Linked DNA regions of Homo sapiens. The protein of the gene in region 2 interacts with the protein of the main gene of each other region in a pairwise test. Each region holds a gene or a part of one and is shown on either strand. Other genes may lie near its edges.

Region 1 (7,983 bases), on a different chromosome or scaffold from region 2:
GAAATTACATAGAGAAAAATTCTAAATATAAGTAATAGCAATTTTCTCCCTTCAGGTAAGAAATAAGACTTGCATTTGTGATATCAAAAATCACCTGAGAAATGAAAAGCAACCCAAAAGTACCCAGGAGGCCCATTTACTTACTGATGACAACTGTGCCATTCCCAGGAATATCTTGGTCGGCTGGGTAAGAAATCTGATGTCCCTTGGTTTTTCACTCTTTGGGGAAATCTGAGCAGCACCCTGTGATCATAATCTCTGACATCTGCCCTGTATGCTGTACTGTGATTTTGAAAAAAGAAAAATTATTATATTCATGGAATATTAACTAAAGACAAAACTACAAATAAAACATCCATTATATAGTAGTGACAATCCTCCTTTCCCAACTAGACTATCAGTTCCAAGAGTCTAAGGCATTTTGTTTCTTTTTGTTCATTGCTGAATCCAAAGCTCCTAGAACCGTCTTGGAGTAGTCAGAGCTCAATGAATATTTGGTGAATAAGTGAATGAATAACACCTATGGAAATCCACAGATCTTAACAGTAAAAACATAATAAGCATTAAAAATCTAAATGTCAGAAGTAAACTTTAGAATCAATTCAAGTTTGATCATATGAATGAGTGAAACTGAAGTGGAAATAATCCCCCAATAAAAAAAATAATTCATAGATGTTTATTACAAACTTCAAACTTAACAAAACTTTTAAAAAAGTTAATGAGCTGCAAACTGAGGAAATAACTCTAAAAGAGCATACCCAGATTTAAATTAATAATTTTGTAACTTCACTATCCCAAAACAATGGCAGTACTGTAAAAACATCATAGGGAGTTCAATGGTGTGAGTGATGCAAGACTCAGGAATGAAAATGAGCTTGGATTTCTTCACTTCCTTTAGCCTGACAATTATAAAGGGTCAAAGTGGAAGAAATGTACAAATAAACATCACTGTGTTCCTACTAATATATTTAGTGTGTCTATATGTTCAGGTGGTATTGATGACCTTATTTTACACTTTAAATTTTTATTAAAACATCTTTTGCTCCCTCTGCTGTTTCCCAGCAGTAAACCCAGAGAACCCCAATCCCAGAGTTACTATTTTATTTTAGAATAGTGGAAAAACAAAGCTCTTGCTCACGGTCTTATTCTGGCTGAAGTAATACCAAAACAACCAAGTTCATCGTGGTCTCAAACAAAAGAGGAAAACTTAGTCTTTACCAATGAGGCTACGATGGCAAATTTGCCCCGAATCTTTTAAGGGGGTATTAACACACCCTTCCATTACAATAAATTTTTTGAATTACTGTATAGTTGTTTTATGAAAAGTGATTGGAACAATTGACTCCCAAGTTTAAGTATCTTGGAAAAAGAGCATGAGACTTTCAGTCTCCAGGATAAGGGTTTCCTCCACCTCTGTGATTCCTGCTGCACTTTGAGACAGAACCCACAGAAATCTTCAAAAATATTAACTCTCCGTCCAGGTCAGCATGCCCAGGAGGTCACGTCCCACTTCCCAGCTCTTGTCCCACTTCCTAACACTTGTCTGCGCGAAGCAGTAGCAGTCAGAACCAGGCACCAGAGCGCCCCCTGAAGGTAGACCGGGGAGCGGGGCCTCAGACATATCAGCCCGTACCTGGCCAGACAGTTTTCCTCCGCCGCGCATCTCAGGTTGTACATGGACATCTTCTGCACGTACGTGGACGCCTGGATGTAGTAGGGGTCGGCCACCAGGTCTGGGAGACCTAAACGTCAGCAGGCGACGGGCGCAGCAGTGAAACAACCCGGCGCCCCCCGCTCCAACTCCCTACCCCTCTAGGTCCCTTACTCCTCACCCTTCGCCCACCGGGACTGCAGAGTGGAGCGGAGGACAGCAAGAGAACTGGGGACGCCCGGGACTGCAAAGCAATGTGAAAAGGAAGCAGGAGGGGCCAGACGCGCGGTTTGCACTGGATTCCAGGGCTGCCACTGCAGGCGCGTGGGGGAGGGATCGGATCTGCGAGGACCGGGGCCCGCCGCGCCCAGGCAGCCACGTCGAGAAGCCACATAGCTGGGGACCAGGTGCACGGGTGCTTCCAGCGGACTTGGGGGTACTTACCGTACTGGAAGTAGCCAGTGCCGTATCCGGGCCGGTACCTGCCCCCAGGTCTGGGCCTTTCATAAGTATCGTAGTAGTTGTAATAAGGGTTGTCGTCAGAGTACTTGTAGGGGTTGTAAGGGTCGTCGCCCACCATGCCGTCCACGCGGCTGGGCGGCCGCAGGTTACTGAGCGCAGGAACTTCTCCCGGCGCTGTCTGGTTCTCCGCGCGCGAGGCGCCAGCTTCGCGGGCTCTAGATGTCGAGTAGCCAGCTTGGAACCAGTGACGGGCGGTGGGCCTGGGGCGGCCAGCGGTGACTCCAGATGAGCCGGCCGTCCGCGTTCGCGCCGCGGCGGTGCGGTTGTCGCGGATCAGCAGGATCGGAGTGCGGGGCTGCTGGGCGGAGGCGTTGGCTGCACCAGGGACGGCGGCGCCCGGGTCCCGGCGGCGCTGAGGCTGGTACTGTGAGCCCAGGCTCAGCAAGCTGAACACCTGCCCGTTGTTCTCCCATTGGATCTGCTGGCGCCAGGCGCCCGGAGCCGCCGGCGGCTCGCGCGGGGGCTGCTGTTGGCCGGCGGCGGGAGGGGCGCAGTGCACTAGCGCGCAGAGCTGCAAAGGCCCGAGCAGGAGCACGGTCCAGGCGAAGCGCATCACTCCTTTTGCCAGATTGACCCCGCTCGAGGAGGACGTGGCTCACAGAAAATAAAAACGGGGCTCAAATCACGTGAGGGAAGGAGAAATCTTCAACCAAGGAGGCGAGCGGAGCACGGGTATCTCAGTCTCCACCAAGCAATGCCAAGGGTGGGATTCAGACCCTTCCCCAGTCAAGGCGGCTGCTCGGACGTGGCACCCTTCCCTTTCCCCTTTCTCAGTCCTGGAAGGCAACGGGGAGCGGCGCGGCAGTCCCGGAGAGCGGGCAGTGTCTGGAGTGAAGGAAGGAGGAGAGATTTTAAACTTTCTGGCACGTTTGCAAAGTTACACAAGCCGTTCTGGCCCGGCCGCCCCTCAGCTATTTGTTCACGTAATGCGATTGGAAACGTGCAAGGCGGACAGCTCCTCGCCTCTGCCCCTCCCTCTCTCCCGTCCCTGCCCTCCTCCCCCCAGACACGTTGCACAGGGAGCGTTAAGGGGAAAGAACAAAACGGAACACACATCCTGAGACACACTGGCTTAATCTGGGGCGAACATGCAGGAATTTCAAAAAACTCAGACAGGCGAAGGCAGCCAGGCCATGGGGCGACGCCAAAATATGCACGAAGAAAAATGCTATTAGGTCACCAGCCCTTGAGAGGCGGGAAGTCGGGAGGTTGGGAGGGTGCTGGGGGTGAGAGGGGGGCGGGGGAGGATTGTGACTAAAGTTTATCCATAAAAGAGTTAACCAGACACATTTCCCAACGCACACTCTCTCGCTTTTATGGGAAGCGCCCTCAGCAAATAAACCCCAGGATATCAAATTTTGTTTTTCTGTGTGTAGGTAATATGAGAAATGGGTTACAAATTTATTTCCTACAGTGAATATTTTAATAACCAAAAGTGAAATTGTACAGGGAACAAAGCCAGCTAACGCTGCAGCTATGAATAAACCTGTCTCTTTTTCAAAATGCCGGCCTGATTTGTACTTTGAGTAGAAGTGGAGAACCATCTTTCATCTCCACAGTGTCTACAAGGAAGATTCATTAAAGACTAGAACAAGTCTGCATGAGAAAGCACTCAGAAGGCATCTTCACATATGCATTTTATAAGACATTTTTCTCCTTCATCTTATAAAGAAGTTTGACTTTGGATTTAAAAAAAAATTAAATCACCTCTGTTAAATACTGAAAGTCAGTAAAACATCGCATGCTGTTTAATTTATCTTCCAATCTAAACAAAGAAGTTGCTGAAGAAACAGCCTTAGAGTTTAGATTTTGGTAAAGAGAAGGAAGTAGGAGTGGTCAGAAAAGAATATAGGTGGGGGATAAATTATGCTGACTGGAAAGAGATACATAATGGACGAGTTATTCATATACCACTCAGGGTTTGGGCAGTGCTAGAAACTTTGCAACAAAAAATGGTTACTAAATGGTCTGATTTAACACTACTACTCAAAACCAGATTTTGGTAACCATTTTATTGGTCTCATCATTGGGCTATTGTCCAGACATACTTCAATATTCACATACCTCTGTTAGTCTCTGTCTCTCCATATTTAATCACCACATTTTGGTGGTGTGGTGGACCTCTGCTGATTTTGACTGCCTCACATCCATTTTCCTTTTCTTTCTAGTAAGAACAACCGGATTTTCCTTTGAGGGGCTTCCCACCCACCCCACTCAGTTGCATAGTGGAAGGACTGAGCATTTATGAGACTTACCCACTTCAAGAAGTGGTCATGAGATCCAGGTTTGGCCAATCAAGCCATCTCTCTAGATGGTTTAATTTTATCTGGGATCTGAATCTTGAGCAGAAGGACACTGTCAAAAATGTTGCTCCTCAAACTACTAAAGAAAGTGCCCAGGCCTGGCGCAGTGGCTCACACCTGTAATCCTAGCACTTTGGGAGGCCAAGGCGGGCGGATCATTATCATTCGAGGTCAGGAGTTCGAGACCAGCCTGGCCAACATGGCAAAACCCCATCTCTACTAAAAATACAAACAAACAAACAAACAAACAAAAAATTAGCTGGGCATGGTGGCACATGTCTGTAATCCCAAACTACTCTGGAGGCTGAGGCTGGAGAATTGCTTGAGCCCGGAGAATTCCTTAAGCCCAGGAGGCAGAGGTTACAGTGAGCGGAGATCCACCACTGCACTCCAACTTGGGCAACAGAGTGAGACTCCATCTAAAAAACAAACAAACAAATGAAAAAGTGCCCATTATGTCTTGCTACATGGATCCGTCCCCTGCCCCGTCACCCAAGCTACTTTAGGTGAGTACATTCTAAGACCTGGTTCTTCAGCATTTCCTTCTTTCTTTCTTACTCCCCGACCCACCCCCCCATCCCCCCCATACATTCCTTTGTGACTGAACATGGTCAGAGTCAATTTCTGTTGTTTTCCACCTAAGAAGGCTGACTGACACTGAGCAGGGTGTGGCTGCTTCTGTCACCTAATCAGTTCACATTATTCTCAGTTCAGGGTGATGGGTTTGGTTCAGTTTGAGTCAAGTTAGATTTCCCCTGCCCATGACTGCACAGCATCCTTGGTCACAGGGAAATATCACATGGAAGCTCGCCAATGTGTTGGCAAATCTATTACTTACATGATAATTTGCACTTGAAGATGAACATTCAAATGCAATTCCCACTGATGGCAAGTCAACAGTGACATCTCACTCTCCCTATAAGGGTCAGAGACATCCCTAGCTGTCATTTTACAGACTTGCTGCAGTGCTTAAAATTAAACTACTCAACTCCTCCAAACCCACTAAGAAAGATGGAGTGAAAAAGAAGAAACAGGTGTATAGATTATAATTTCAATGGACAGGCCAAATTACAGGAGAAGCAGGAAACGAAAGAATGTAATTATCCCTCATCTGAAAAAGGCTCTGCATGTGCCCATGAACAGCTTATTCCCTAGACTAGAGAAGTCTGAAACTGCTATTACTTGACCACAGGTTCCTGAGGGAAGACCTCTGCTATGCCAGACATAGTGTCAGAATGGCAGACCAAAGCAGCACCCCTAATGGGAGGGTAGAAAGTTTACACTGGATCCCAGATAAAATGCCCTGTTTCCAATCCTAGTGCTCCAATAAAAAAAAAAAAAGCTGTGTCTCTTTGGACAGTTTGTTTACTATCTCTGGCTTTTGTTATATTTAGGATTCAAGGATTAACCAAATTCTTTCTAAAGTATTTTTCCTAGTTTTAAAATCTCTGATTTTTGTGAATATTCAAGTTATTCCAATTACTTTCGATTCATTGATAATAATGTGTTCATTATGATTATTAATATTTAATCAAATTTTTTTAGTTGGAGTTTAAAACATTGGATGCATTTTGTGTGAGTTAGAATCTGCAGACTGCAATTTTCTTATTCTACATATTTTCCAATAGTGAAAGTCAATACATATTTATTTGTTTTACAAACATTTCTTGAACACATATATATGTTCCGAAGTGTAGTATACCATAATGGTGACTTGCACACGTGAGCACTAAAAGTTTAGAGCTGAATGAAGTTGATCCTTTTTTCCAGATTTGCTCCAACAGACTTTAAAATTCTTATCAGAGTATAAATAACTGACTAGAGCAGTAATGATGTGCAATATTTATTTTCTTAAAACATGTACACACTACCAAAAGAGAAAAACACACTACCCTTTGTCACACATGCTAATGAAAAGCTTAGTTGATTTTCACTCTCCTTCATTTCCTCTAAAATCTCTCTGGCTTAGGACTCTGTCAGCTGAAAAACAAACATGTGGCTACCACATTTGGGGACAATACAGTGTTTGCAAGCCCTGCGGGAGATAATCTAGCCACACATTGTGTTCCCTGTTCAATAACAAAACTATTATTCACAAAATTGGAGAAACCATAGTTCCTTTCCACTCAAATCTGAGATGATAATGATGATGACAATAATAATAATAAGCCACGGCTACATCAAGATACAAACAGCTTTTTTTGCTTTGATAAGATCCACAGCTGATTTCACTTTTGACCATGAGATTTTCTTCTCGTGAACAATTCTGCAGTATGTGCCATAAGAGAAGGGAAGGAATGTTGCTAATTCTTTTTTTGAGTTTCTAGCCCATCAATATCAAATCTTTAAATGGCAATGTCTGGCCCATTGGCCAAGAAATGAAAGTTGTTGTAATGCTATGTTCCTGGTATTTGTTAAATACATTTATTTTTGTAGGACATTTCACATAAATGGAAAACAGAAAGCCGAAACCATAAAGCAGGGCCTCTGAATTGCAGAAGCCAGAACAGTAATGCCACATTCAAAGCAATCAGGTTCAAGTGTAAATTCTTTTGTTTGAGGCTCAAGAAGCTCATACAAAGCTTGTTTTTTGGTAAAGAGTAATGGTTGTATGTGCTTTGGTTCCATGTGGTTTGAAAACAAAACAGCACAGAGAATAAAATTTAAAAAGTGGAAAGTTGGAGATGTGTAAGGGGAAAATGATTGAGAAAACAGAATACCATATAACACAAAGGAGAATACACTCTGAGTGTTGAATTAGGACATTGAGGATACTTAAAAAGTAATTAAGAAATGTAACAGAGTGAAATACAGAACTAGAAATCTTTTTACTTGGAGTGAAATGGAGGAGAGGAGTAAGTTAGCCTTAAAGTTAACAGTGTGCTTGTGTTCCCTTCTACTACTTATCCTAGCCTTCTGCCACATACCACTTCCAGGTATTCACCCAAATATAAAAAGTAGACAGTTGGGTACACACTTGTCTGTGTGTCAAGACCAAACTGAAAAAAAAAAAGTATAAACAAACTGAGTAGAAGAATTCCAGAAATAATAACTTTTAAATGTATCTGGCTTGGTTACCCATTCCTTTGGGCCACCTAAGGAATGGAAAAGTGGAGTTTAACTCTAAGGAATAGAAAAGTATTTCATTCTGGTGTCCTTAATGCATGTTCACGTGTGATGAAGTAAAGAATGTTAGTTACTGAAACAAAATGGGAAAATGAGAAGAGGTGATATGATAGGAGAATGGGTCTTTGAAGTACAGGGGATCAGAGTTCAAAGTAATTAGTTCTATTAACAATAAAAATAAGGGTTCACCGGGAGGCGAAGCTTGCAGTGAGCCGAGATTGCGCCACTGCACTCCAGCCTGGGTGACAGAGCCAGACTCCGTCTCAAAAAAAAAAAAAAAAAAAAAAAAAAGGGTTCAGCCAATTGGCAAAATTGCTTACAAGTAAAGTCCACATGATTTAATTGGTCCCAATAGACAGTCCAATGGCAAAATGGCAACGT
Region 2 (7,080 bases):
CATTTATTTATTAAAGGAACATTGAAAATAAGCTCTTCTACCCAATTGCTATTCTTTGCCTTAACAGCAGATGGGAGCATTAAACTAAAGAGATGATTTTGTCACTAACTCTGAAGACTTTCTGGATTTTATCAACCTAGTTGAGAAATTCAGGGGAAAACTGAGCTAATCTTGGCAGCATAAAACTCTACCAGATTTTCCTGGGAAAGTTTTAACAGAACTTATTATGTGTATTGAATGTCACTGTTAGCTCTATTTGGCATTAGTAGCTCAACATGATATGACATAATATATTGTATATCCCATATGGATGTAAAGACATTTCCAAATCACCAAAAAGAAAAGAAAAAGATGTTTTTAAAATAAACATTGGCAAGGAATAAGTAAAAATAATAGGGAAAATATGAATCATAACCATCTGTATTTGTGGCTTAAAATGGTAAAAAAAATTGCTTCAACCAAAATTTTAGACTTGCTTCATAATTATATACAAGGTACTGAAATTTCAGCAGCTATTAACTATGAATCAGCTTAGGAATTGCCAAAACAAAACCTGGTCTCAATTCTTAAGGCATTAGCTGTGTATTGTGGTTAAATACAACTTTAGTTCTTGACAATTAGTATGATAGTTTGCCAGTAATTGAGTAAATAAATAATAAGTTTCTAAGCATCTGCAAAAATTTTTGCAAACAACAAATGATGTACTGTTCAGTAATTTATATTTTTGTGAGATGGTGAAATTTTTATTTTCTCAAAGCCAAGATATTTAAAATGTCTATTGAAAGAGGCCTGCTACCGAGTAGGCAAGTAGTTCAAAATTAGTTTTTGCCGCCTAGTGGTCAAGAGGCCTTTTAGTGGTCCTAAGATTTTTCCATCTGGGCACTACATGCAGCCACAAAAGATCACCTTTTCGAGGTCCCGTTGCTATATCATCTCTCTGTCTAGGGTAATAATAATTTAGGTTTGTGTTTAAATGAGTTGAAATGTTTAGCTGATTTAGTAAATGTTCACCAAAAAGAATTTCAAAACCTAGACTCTAGAAAGTACTGCAATTGCTTCCCCACCTCATTTCCATTTATGTGTTCTGATACAAATTTAATGATATTGTACAAGACACTTGATCTACTCAAGAAGTTTTAAAAATCCATTCTTTTTTATGTTACAATTTCTCAATGTAGTTTACAGCTAACGAAGGAAAGCTTCATTTTTTAATTGCAATTTTAAGTAGGCAAATAATTTGTTTATTTAGAAAATTTATTCTAATTCCTCCCCTATGTCTGAAACACATATATGAGAACATGGGATATATTTTCTATATACATTTCCTAAGCTTTTAAAACAGCATTTCTTAATTCTTAGTGAATATAAAAGCTGAATACCAAAATGCTTATCTCAGTGGAAATGAAGTAGGCCTATTTGAATGGTGTTACGGAAAATATATTTAATAGAAGAGCAAACAGTCATTTACACATTGGTGTGAAGAGTAATAACAGGTGAGTCTATGCATTAAACTCATTTTGTTCTCTAGACAGAACTGGCGTTTCATATTTAAGTACTAAGTTCACCAGTCTGCAGAAAAGGTCCGAAAATTTGGGTTTGGAAGATTGTGCAGTAAAATTACATGGAACACTGTAATTACATTGGTTCCTTTTCTCAAAATGAACCACTTAAAAATTTTCTCCAAATCAACTTTATATGAAATATTCCTACAGATTAGTTTCAGCCCAAGATTTTCCCATTAATAATGTGTATTTTAAGCCCTCCAGATCCATCCTCAAAAGCATTGTTAGATTGTACAGATGATTCTTTTAGCTCATTGCCTCTGGATCAGGCATATCTTTTCACACTTAATACAGCACGTGGATTATGAAAAACAGCCATTGAATACTAAAGGCATATTAAAGACAAATGAAGATAATAGTTAAAGCTAGGCTCAAACATTTCCTATTTTAAGTATCTTCTATATGTTCTTGATCTGCCTAGAAATTAACATAAATACTTTTCCCTCCTGTGTATTCATCCTCCTATGTTTATGTCTCATTAAGGGTGTCCTCACATCATTAGAAATACAGTACTTTCCATTTGTTCTGCTAATTATTAAATAAATGAGCACAATATTGACTTATTAAAATTGTAAATGAGTTTGTTAAAATTGGGTCAAATGCAATGTTATAAGTATTAACGTTGTTATTTAGCTTATTGTTTCTAAATTTTATTAGAAACATATTATAGTACTTTTTAAAACACGGAGGCCTCAATATAAAGATTATTTTAGTGCAATTTTAAAAATTATCATATTCTTAAAATATTTTTCTCTTCTCACCTGCACATGACAGTCAACATGGTGCATGTATGTTTTGTTTTACTTTAGAAAGTCATATTGTTTTAAGTAAAAAAAAGAGAGTTGGAATGTTTAAAAAATAAGAATTAATGCAACTTTATTTATTGCCATAACTTATTTCACATCCACTTGAAATAAATTTGGCTCTCCTGAGAAGTCAGTTCCTGTAAAAACTTGTGGCTGAAAATTAGCCCTTTCTCTGTTTTTCTACCTTAGTTACCTTTGCTGAAAAAAATAGTTTTGTATAGCTTCCTTTATTATTCCATGCATGACAAAATATAGTTAGCAATATATTCTACTGAAAGTTAAAGCTCTTAGATTGATGTTTCATGGACCTTCATTTAATACCTAGTAATATGTGCGAAAATCATGGCAAAGTCAAGGAAAAGAATGTTTTGTTTCTAGAGGAATAAAAATGCTCTAGTTAGCCATTTGCAACATTTAGAAATAGAATAGAAAATGGGATTTAGAAGTAAGTCATCTCATATTATTCTCTTCATTTCTTAGATATCTGCATTCAGAGTAGCTTCGGTTAAAAAAATAAGTTAATTTTTTCCAAAAATATTAAATAAAAGGCAAATAATTTCATTCTACTATTGAAAAGTAATGGACTTTCCAATTATTTCCATTATTTTAGTTGTTTAAACTAAATCTCTCTGTTCCAATTTATAATTAATTTTAAATTCCATCTCCCATGTCATTTGGTGTTTCTGTTCCTTACTACGAAGTACAATTCTGAAAGAAATTTACTTGTGATCACACAAGCAATGTATTAAACTCAATCATCTCCTTGCTGGGATCTATAATATAAAACATATTGAAGCTAACACATGTCTTAAACCACTCTTAGCTGCTTCTTTCCTAGTTTTCTATTTTGGAATTTTAGAGAAAAATAAAGCCAAATAACATAATTTTATATTTTTAGATGTGCATAAAGCTTACTATTTTGTGATTTTTTTGTTTCCATTCTTCATGTTAAATCATGCTGACTTGAAGAAATCATATTGTTTGGACAAAAAATGAATGTTATGTTTGTCTTAATACTATTTTTGGAGCAATAATATTATTCCCTAAAGCACCTAATTAAATTAATTAATTTGGCTTGAATGAAAAGTGAATGTTTTTTCCTTTTCTCTTCTTACTAAATCCTTATCTGGGAAAAGATGTTGTATAATCTGAAAATCTAAGAATCACAGATATGATATATAAATTATCATAATTATTTTCATTACTTTAGAAAGCTGAATATTTTGTACATGTGGGTATTTGGCATTCATATAGTTTCCAATTGAAATAATGTTTGGTTTGCCTTTTAAATGATATTGTTTGGAAAACATAAATTTTAATAAAATATTTTTTCTGCTGCTTATGTATTTATCAGAGTATCTTAAAATATGTTAGATTACTTAACAAAAAGGACTCTGAAGAAAGTATCTGTAGACATTCTAGGTGAATAATTTTAATTTAAAAGCACTGTTTTGCATAGAAAATAAGATTTTATTTATTCTTGCTACCTCCAGGAAAAAAAGTTGATAAATTATCATTTGTAGATATTTTCTTGTTTCATATTTTATAGATATATGCTTTTTCAATCTCCTTAGAAATGTCCTTTAAGTTGATTAATCTTTTAGAATTCAATTAATCTTTTAGAATTGTCTAAAAGATTAATCTTTTAGAATTGTCTAAAAGATTAATCTTTTAGAATTGTCTAAAAGATTAATCTTTTAGAATTGTCTAAAAGATTAATCTTTTAGAATTCAATCTCCTTAGAAATGTCCTTTAAGTTGATTAATATTTTATCCTGTTAAAAATAAAAATAATTAGATAATTAGAAAATTTTAAGTATCATATATCTAACCACCAGCAATTGCATATATAATAAAATCTTCTTAGTGTCAAATTATAAAAACATTGAAGAGAATATATTCTACTTGTCTTATTACATTTGGCAAACAACTTTAAATTGTATAGTCTTATAAATAAAATTTTACATTTCACCATCCTTATCACTAAGTTACTAAGTACTTTAATTTCTTCCTTAGAGTAATTTTATTTGCCAGCGTTAGTAAAACTAGTGCTATAGTACCTCCTATCTTGTAGGGACTGCTCTGAGTAGTTTGAATATCTATTTTGCTTCATACTCCCAAAGGCCTTATGAGCTTACAGCTGTCATAATCCTAATTTTACAGATGAGGAATCTTAACTGCAGAAACATTAAGTAATTTTCCCAAGGTTACACAGTCAGGGTGAAAAAGAAGATCTGAGTGTAAGAAGGCTTTCTCTAAATTTGATACTCTTAATTACTGCATTCTATTTTCTTTCTGCTATTTCAAAACTGAGTACGATTAAAGAAGCCAACTCCAAAGCTCTGTCCCATATGATTTTTTATCCCTGCAAGGTTAAAATCTGAATCTAGATAGGTATATTTTGAAGGACAACAGTTCTTTGCAAAATATTTTTCTATCTGGCCTCAAAACAGGAAGATGCCATCTGGAGTTAAATTCTCCTGTTTATTTTCTCTTGACCTTATGAAGAAGGGTTATATCTCTAAAGCTACCCTGATGACATCCAGACCACCAACAGAATAAATGTGTGACTCAGAAACCCTGCATACATTTTGCTATATACAAAAAAGTAGGGTTCTAACAACAATAGTACCAGACAGAAAAGACTTCTGCATCCAATGCAAAAATATGTTTAAGATGTCTCATTAACACACTGTTTTTCAGAAAATATAGTTACTAAATGATTCATGTTAATATACATCTAAGTTCATCAGAAGTTTTCACTGAATGAAACTGGAACGTTGTGAACATGCTATGCAACTCCAAAGAGTATTTCTGTGATTTTAATTTACTTGAGAAATGCAGTCTCTGTCATCCTCCACACAAAATACTATAGAAAAACAGTTTCAGAAAAATATATGCCATTTTACTGAAGCAGTACTTTCTTAATACTAGAATTCAAGGGAAGTTTAACTTTTAATAATTTCTGGATCTTTTCTCTTTGATGTTTACATCTTTTGGGCATTTTGACTCGTCCTCTTTCAACGTTTCATTTTGTTCATTAAGACTACATTTTAAACAGCAGTGCTTGACCTCAGTCATGGAAAAAAACAAGGGTTTTATTAGTTAATCTGAAAGGAATCCACTTCTGCTGTGTTTTCATTAGACACAGACTGAAACTCTGGTGGTTAATGTAACTCCCCCAACTGCAGTTCACAAATGATTTATGTAAGAATAGCTATCTCATTTTTTCCGTTGTCATCTTGACATGAAACAGGCAAAGTTTCCCCTTTGAAAAGTCTGGAGAGTTTTTTTTTACACTATATGATCTTTTTTTTTTTTTTTTTTTTGAGTGTGGAAACAATGGGATTGAGCTTTTATCTTAGGGAAAACTTTTACAAGAAACAGTTCACTGAGAGGGTTCCAGAAAGTTATTGTAGACCTGGAAACTTTACAACTGTTCCTCATGTCCAGCAAAAGCAATAACATCTTTCATCTTTAAAGCTTTAATTCTTTAAGCAATCTACTTTAATCACTTCAAGGCGGTGATATCATTAGATGTTACAAAATTAAAGAGCTGGGCTACATAATTTTTGGAACTCTGCACCAAAGAAGCCATTCACAATGGAAACTGTGGAGTTTCGGTAGATGGCACTCTTTTCTCTGAGTGACAACTCAAGGTCCAGCATGTGACCGTAGATGTAGAACAGGGGCTTTCCTGAGGAGCTGTCCTTTAGCCTCAACTATAATCCTGGTAAACTCACAGCCAATCATTCTTGATTTTTAAAAAGAAGCCTGTAGATAAGACATCAATCCAGGAATCTGAAGTAGTTAAGAGGCATTTAATCACAGTCTTTCCTTCTTTCCCAGAATTGTTCCAGTGGATTTGCTTTCTTTTCTTGTAATGCTGAAATGTTTAATTCCAGAATTTAATAAAAATACCTTTTTATATGTAGGCCTTTAGATCACTTAAAGAGTATTCAACATCAGATGATCTAAAGGCCTATACATAAATAGGTAGTTTTGAAAATCCAAATTTTTCAAGGCTCTGTTATTACCTGAGCATTTTTCTTTCCCTAGAAAAAAAGCTCAGGTAAGTAAATACAAGGTATCATGGATGAAAAACACAAAGTGTTATAATACTTTATTTACTCACACAGAACTGGTGATAATTTCTTTTAAAATGATAAGATCCTGAGCTTCTGGGGTTTAAAAAAATTAACGTACTACTCTCTATAAAATTGAATATTAAACAGAAAAATACCTATTCTTTTTTCACCTTTAGAAATGCATTATTAGTTCATGTACTTTCTAGGACGATATATAATTTTTTTAGTATCTCCTTTCAATGACAAATAGTTACAAAATTAAGAAAATTCAAATATCTGATTTTAATGTGTATTCTATAATTATCTAAGACTGAACAGAATATTGGTCCTAGCCTTGACTCCGTCATTTTCTAGTTTTGTAATCTCAAATAAAGCACTGATCCATGTTAGGTGACTGACACTGAGATATGTGAGCAACTATGCATTCTCTCCCTTTAAAAGTGCAATTGTTCCTAAATGTATGTAACCTTTTCCTGTTAGTTCAGTGTGTTTAATTGTAGGGACAAACACAAACCAGAAAACTTGAATGTTACCTGAGCAAGTTACAAATTCCCTCTTAAAGCATAATGAAAAAAATATACTCTCATGACGTCTAATAAGAAACTGATTCTCTGAGTCCATTTAC

The links. The genes of interacting proteins can lie anywhere in the genome.
Region 1: the proteins of COL3A1 (region 2) and LOX interact in a two-hybrid assay, tested with the Homo sapiens proteins (one study listed by IntAct).

Annotation. Positions count from the first base shown.
Region 1 is NC_000005.10:122,075,260-122,083,242, forward strand, and holds the start of LOX (protein-lysine 6-oxidase isoform 1 preproprotein), read right to left. Parts: upstream 3,001-7,983; 5' UTR 2,727-3,000; coding exon 2,096-2,726; exon of another isoform or gene 1,743-2,095; coding exon 1,634-1,742; exon of another isoform or gene 283-1,633; coding exon 145-282; exon of another isoform or gene 67-144; coding exon of another isoform or gene 56-66; intron 1-55. UniProt on the Homo sapiens protein: Responsible for the post-translational oxidative deamination of peptidyl lysine residues in precursors to fibrous collagen and elastin. Regulator of Ras expression. May play a role in tumor suppression. Plays a role in the aortic wall architecture.
Region 2 is NC_000002.12:188,977,373-188,984,452, reverse strand, and holds part of COL3A1 (collagen alpha-1(III) chain preproprotein), read right to left. Parts: intron 6,362-7,080; exon of another isoform or gene 6,292-6,361; intron 1-6,291. UniProt on the Homo sapiens protein: Collagen type III occurs in most soft connective tissues along with type I collagen. Involved in regulation of cortical development.